Regions from separate parts of the Homo sapiens genome. Here region 2 is linked to region 1. The links come from fine-mapping of genetic effects on gene expression. A gene starts in region 1. The other region holds a variant in brackets. All regions are shown on one strand. Distances are between the middles of the regions. Region 1 holds the start of MOCS2 (molybdenum cofactor synthesis 2). Region 2 has its middle 32 kb from the start of MOCS2-DT.

What was found. PIP is the estimated chance that this variant, and not a neighbour inherited with it, causes the effect.
Region 2: its variant is the best candidate, but not a certain one, in a credible set for the expression of MOCS2 in lung (TOPMed, PIP 0.51).

Annotation. Positions count from the first base shown.
Region 1 is chr5:53,108,195-53,110,953 of GRCh38, reverse strand. It overlaps MOCS2 (molybdenum cofactor synthesis 2), which reads left to right and starts at 1,197. Exons shown (of 7, transcript NM_004531.5): 1 at 1,197-1,703; 2 at 2,311-2,432. It overlaps MOCS2-DT (MOCS2 divergent transcript), which reads right to left and starts at 1,112. Exons shown (of 2, transcript NR_104654.1): 1 at 806-1,112. RefSeq lists a silencer at 1,169-1,458.
Region 2 is chr5:53,140,634-53,143,651 of GRCh38, reverse strand. No RefSeq gene overlaps it. Among named protein-coding and RNA genes, the nearest start is that of MOCS2-DT, 32 kb to the right of the region's middle. The variant T/C (reference allele first, on the strand shown) is at 1,512.

The DNA.
Region 1 (2,759 bases):
TACTCCCACTCTTGTCATTTACTGCCACCATTCTAGCAGATTTACCTTCTCAGCATCTTCTCACTCCCCAGGTGACACAACCACTTTCCCCTTCCACCCTTGAAATGTAACACAGATCCTTAGTATTACAGGGAATTATCATTCATATTTAAAACTCTCCTACCCAGGACTGTGAGCTCCAAGGAAAGGGACGTGTAACTTACATCCACTTAACGACGCAAGCAATTTAAAGCCAAGAGTTCTTGTTGGCAAGAATTGGGAAAGTTGGACGGACAGTATACAATTACCGAGCAGCCAATAAACAGGAAAAGTCATACAGTTCGAATGTTCTGACCAGGCGGATATTCTGTCTTTAAGAAACACTAATCATATACCTGGGAAAGAAAAAAATCTTGGGCCCCTTCAAACTGGGAATTACTCAGGGCAAATCTGCCTCCTATTCTATCCAAGTCACCTCTTTTGCTGACAAAGAATAGATGCATATTCTGATTGCCTCCTTTAGAAAGACTTATCAGAAACTCAAAAGAATGCTACTGTCTATTACCTACCTGGAAGCCCCCAGTTGGGGGGGGCGGGGCTTGCTTTTAACGGTCTCCGCCTTTCTGGAAGGAACTAATGTACTTTTTACATATTGATTGATGTCTCCTGTCTCCCCAAAATGTATAAAACCAAGCTGTGCCCTGACCACCTTGGGCACATGTCCTCAGGACTTCCTGAGGCTGTGTCACGGGCATGTCCTCAACGTTGGCAAAATAAACTTTCTAAGTTAACTGAGACCTGTCTCAAATTTTCGAGGTTCACATACCGTAGGTAAAAGTGTCAGAAGCCTAAAGGTGAGCCAGTGGAAAAGCCTGAAGACCCCTGCAAGGTTATTAGCTAAGCCTCCATAACGCAGGCGGCAAGTGTCCAGGAGTCTGGCGTCTGCTCGCCTGCACCACGACCTCCCTCCTGGGGAGAAGGACATGCATGGTAAGCCATTTCTCCATTTCCATACTGATTGCTTCCTCTCACCACCACGGCCCATCTGCGAAGCAAAACTAATCCTGGCGTGGAACAGGCCGCCTGAGGGAAACAGCTAGAGCCCGGCGCGGGGCGGAGCTGGTTGTGCGCATGCTCCGTGCAGGCGCAGGCGGGGGCTGAGCGCCGTCGGGTTACGCCTGCGCTCCGGGTGAGCCCGCGCCTGCGCCTTTGCGGCCGTGATTCGGTCCCGCTGTCCTAGGCGGGATGGTGCCGCTGTGCCAGGTAAGGGTGGCGGGTGTGCGTGCGGGCCTGGGTGCGGAGCCCTCCTCGACGTGTCTCTCCCGCCCTTTCCCTCCACATACCCAGCCTTGGTCAGTCGGACCTCCCCACTAGCCCCCAACCTGGCCGGCGTCTTGGGTTCGGGGGCGCCCCCGCCCCCGCCCCCGGGCCCTTCCTGTCTCCGGGCTTTACTGCGACTGCCCCAGCAGAAGTCGGGTCCTCTCCGAGAACTCTTGTCAGCTCACGGCAGCAAGGACGGACTCGTTCTGAAGGCGCCTCCACCTTTTATGACCACCTCTTTCCCAGATTATTCGTTTTGATGAAGCTAAAATTTTAATCTAAAAAGAAATGCACCTCATGGAGAATTCTTGTGAAGAACTGTGCTTCATCTGTGGATTTCTACACCCTTGATCATTTGCAAACCTGTAATTATTTCGTAAAGAGTTGTTTGCACGGAGTGACAGGTGCCTATTTTACTTCGTCGGATCCCTTACATACCAGGCTGCTGGCACAAGTTTGTTCTAGCAAATTCCAGTCTGTCGTGTGTTTCAAACCTACTTGCTTCTGTAAATGTCAGATTTACTATGTTGCATAACTTAATCCTTAGCGTCTGGGGACGATGTTATACAGACCGGAATCTAAGGTCATTTGACAACCGTGAGAAACAGGTTTTTCGCTTATTTATTCATTTATTTTATTTGTGTAACTCATCTCTTGACTCAAACATTTGTTCTTTGCTTACATATTTATAAAAGGTGCTATACTTTTATGTCAATTAAGGCAGGCTTAACATGTTTTCCTAGAAGATAAATACTTAGGATTTTAATGATGGCACACTTAAGTTTGTAAAACTAAAAGGCATCCAGAAATTAGTCTGAATTGTATTTAAAACAACAAGTTTTCAGAATTTGAACTTGTAGGTATACTGAAATTTTTTACGGGTTATTTAATTTTCTTTATAAAATTTGTCTTTGATTAAAGCAATACATTTGGAAAATGAGAAAACTGCTCAACATTGACAGTCAGAAAACGAGTATGAGTTGTTATTAAAAGCATTTTCTTTACTTTCAGGTTGAAGTATTGTATTTTGCAAAAAGTGCTGAAATAACAGGAGTTCGTTCAGAGACCATTTCTGTGCCTCAAGAAATAAAAGCGTTGCAGCTGTGGAAGGAGATAGAAACTCGACATCCTGGGTAGTTAAAAATTTGTAGAATGCATATGAGTAACACTTAGATATTTTCAAAATACATAAATGATAAAAGTAAAAAGGTTAATTTCGATTTCCGTGCTTAATGTCAAAAAGAATCGTTAGTTGTATTTTTTTTGGAACACCTGAAAAACTCTAAATGTGCACCGTATTTTAAGAAAGGTTAAAGATATTTTACCCCAAAACACAGTGAACCGCAGAGGGACATGATTATATTCTCTTTGATAATTTACAAAACACTGCACATGTCACTTCTGCAATTTTATAACATTAAATGAAATTGTTACAAATTCTGTTAAAAATGTGTGCTTTA
Region 2 (3,018 bases), 33 kb before region 1:
TTGATCTGTCTAATGTTGACAGTGGGGTGTTAAAGTCTGCCACTATTATTGTGTTGGAGTCTAAGTCTCTTTGTAGGTCACTAAGGACTTGCTTTATGAATCTGGGTTCTCCTGTATTGGGTGCATATATATTTAGGATAGTTAGCTCTTCTTGTCAAATTGATCCCTTTACCATTATGTAATGGCCTTCTTTGTCTCTTTTGATCTTTGTTGGTTTAAAGTCTGTTTTATCAGAGACTAGGATTGCAACCCCTGCCTTTTTTTGTTTTCCATTTGCTTGGTAGATCTTCCTCCATCCTTTCATTTTGAGCCTATGTATGCCTCTGTATGTGAGATGGGTTTCCTGAATACAGCACACTGATGGGTCTTGACTCTTTATCCAATTTATCAGTCTGTGTCTTTTAATTGGAGCATTTAGCCCATTTACATTTAAGGTTAATATTGTTATGTGTGAATTTGATCCTGTCATTATGATGTTAGCTGGTTATTTTGCTCATTAGTTGATGCAGTTTCTTCATAGCCTTGATGGTCTTTAAAATTTGGCATGTTTTTGCAGTGGATGGTACCGGTTGTTCCTTTCCATGTTTAGTGCTTCCTTCAGGAGCTCTTTTAGGGCAGGCCTGGTGGTGACAAAATCTCTCAGCATTTGCTTGTCCATAAAGTATTTTATTTCTCCTTCACTTATGAAGCTTAGTTTGGCTGGACATGAAATTCTGGGTTGAAAATTCTTTTCTTTAAGAATGTTGAATATTGGCCCCCACTCTCTTCTGGCTTGTAGACTTTCTGCCGAGAGATCCGCTGTTAGTCTGATGGGCTTCCCTTTGTGGGTAACCCGACCTTTCTCTCTGGCTGCCCTTCACATTTTTTCCTTCATTTCAACTTTGGTGAATCTGACAATTATGTGTCTTGGAGTTGCTCTTCTCGAGGAGTATCTTTGTGGCGTTCTCTGTATTTCCTGAATCTGAATGTTGGCCTGCCTTGCTAGATTGGGGAAGTTCTCCTGGACTATATCCTGCAGAGTGTTTTCCAACTTGGTTCCATTCTCCCCGTCACTTTCTGGTACACCAATCAGATGCAGATTTGGTCTTTTCACATAGTCCCATATTTCTTGGAGGCTTTGCTCATTTTCTTTTTATTCTTTTTTCTCTAAACTTCCCTTCTCGCTTCATTTCATTCATTTCATCTTCCATCACTGATACCCTTTCTTCCAGTTGATCGCATCGGCTCCTGAGGCTTCTGCATTCTTCATGTAGTTCTCTAGCCTTGGCTTTCAGCTCCAGCAGCTCCTTTAAGCACTTCCCTGTATTGGTTATTCTAGTTATACATTCATCTAAATTTTTTTCAATGTTTTCAACTTCTTTGCCTTTGGTTTGAATTTCCTCTTGTAGCTCGGAGTATTTTGATCATCTGAAGCCTTCTTCTCTCAACTCGTCAAAGTCATTCTCCGTCCAGCTTTGTTCTGTTGCTGGTGAGGAACTGCGTTCCTTTGGAGGAGGAGAGGCGCTCTGCTT[T/C]TTAGAGTTTCCAGTTTTTCTGCTCTGTTTTTTCCCCATCTTTGTGGTTTTATCTACTTTTGGTCTTTGATGATGGTGATGTACAGATGGGTTTTTGGTGTGGATGTCCTTTCTGTTTGTTAGTTTTCCTTCTAACAGACAGGACCCTCAGCTGCAGGTCTGTTGGAGTTTGCTAGAGGTCCACTCCAGACCCTGTTTTCCTGGGTATCAGCAGCAGTGTCTGCAGAACCATGGATTTTCACGATCCACGAATGCTGCTGTCTGATCGTTCCTCTGGAAGTTTTGTCTCAGAGCAGTACCCTGCTGTGTGAGGTGTCAGTCTACCCCTACTGGGGGGTGCCTCCCAGCTAGGCTGCTCGGGGGTCAGGGGTCAGGGACCCACTTGAGGAGGCAGTCTGCCCTTTCTCAGATCTCCAGCTGCATGCTGGGAGAACCACTGCTCTCCTCAAAGCTGTCAGACAGGGACATTTAAGTCTGCAGAGGTTACTGCTGTCTTTTTGTTTGTCTGTGCCCTGCCCCCAGAGGTGGCGCCTGCAGAGGCAGGCAGGCCTCCTTGAGCTGTGGTGGGCTCCACCCAGTTTGAGCTTCCAGGCTGCTTTGTTTACCTAAGCGAGCCTGGGCAATGGCGGGTGCCCTCCCCCAGCCTCGCTGCTGCCTTGCTGTTTGATCTCAGAGTGCTGTGCTAGCAATAAGCGAGACTCCATGGGCGTATGACCCTCCGAGTCAGGTGCGGGATATAATCTCCTGGTGCGCAGTTTCCTAAGCCCATCGTAAAAGTGCAGTATTAGGTTGGGAGTGGCCCAATTTTCCAGGTGCCGTCTGTCACCCCTTTCCTTGACCAGGAAAGGGAACTCCCTGATCCCTTGCACTTCCTGAGTGTGGCAATGCCTCGCCCTGCTTCGGCTGGCGCATGGTGCGCTGCACCCACTGTCCTGTGCCCACTGTCTGGCACTCTCTAGTGAGATGAACCCAGTACCTCAGATGGAAATGTAGAAATCACCTGTCTTCTCTGTTGCTCAGGCTGGGAGCTGTAGAATGGAGCTCTTCCTATTGGGCCATCTTGGCTCCTCCGCCCCTGAAATATTTCTTCTGGAATAGATGAATTTAAAATACAGCTTTACCTTTTCTGTTTTTCTTAACTGGAGCCCAAGTGCAGGGTAAATTATGTTAAGATGTTTTGTGTAGCATCATGAATGCTCTTCCTTCTTCAACCACTTAGGACAGGTCTGGGGAGAGTTCAAGTGATTCTCCTGCCTCAGCCTCCTGAGTAGCTGGGATTACAGGCACCTGCCACCATGCCCAGCTAATTTTTGTATTTTTACTAGAGAAGGGGTTTCACCATATTGGCCAGGCTGGTCTCGAACTCCTGACCTCAGGCGATCTGTTTGCCTTGGCCTTCCAAGGTTCTTGGGATTACAGGTGTGAGCCACCACGCCCGGCCCATATTATTTTCTTAATGGGGTAAAGTGTTTCAGAAAAATCACTACTCCCAGCCACTATAAAATTT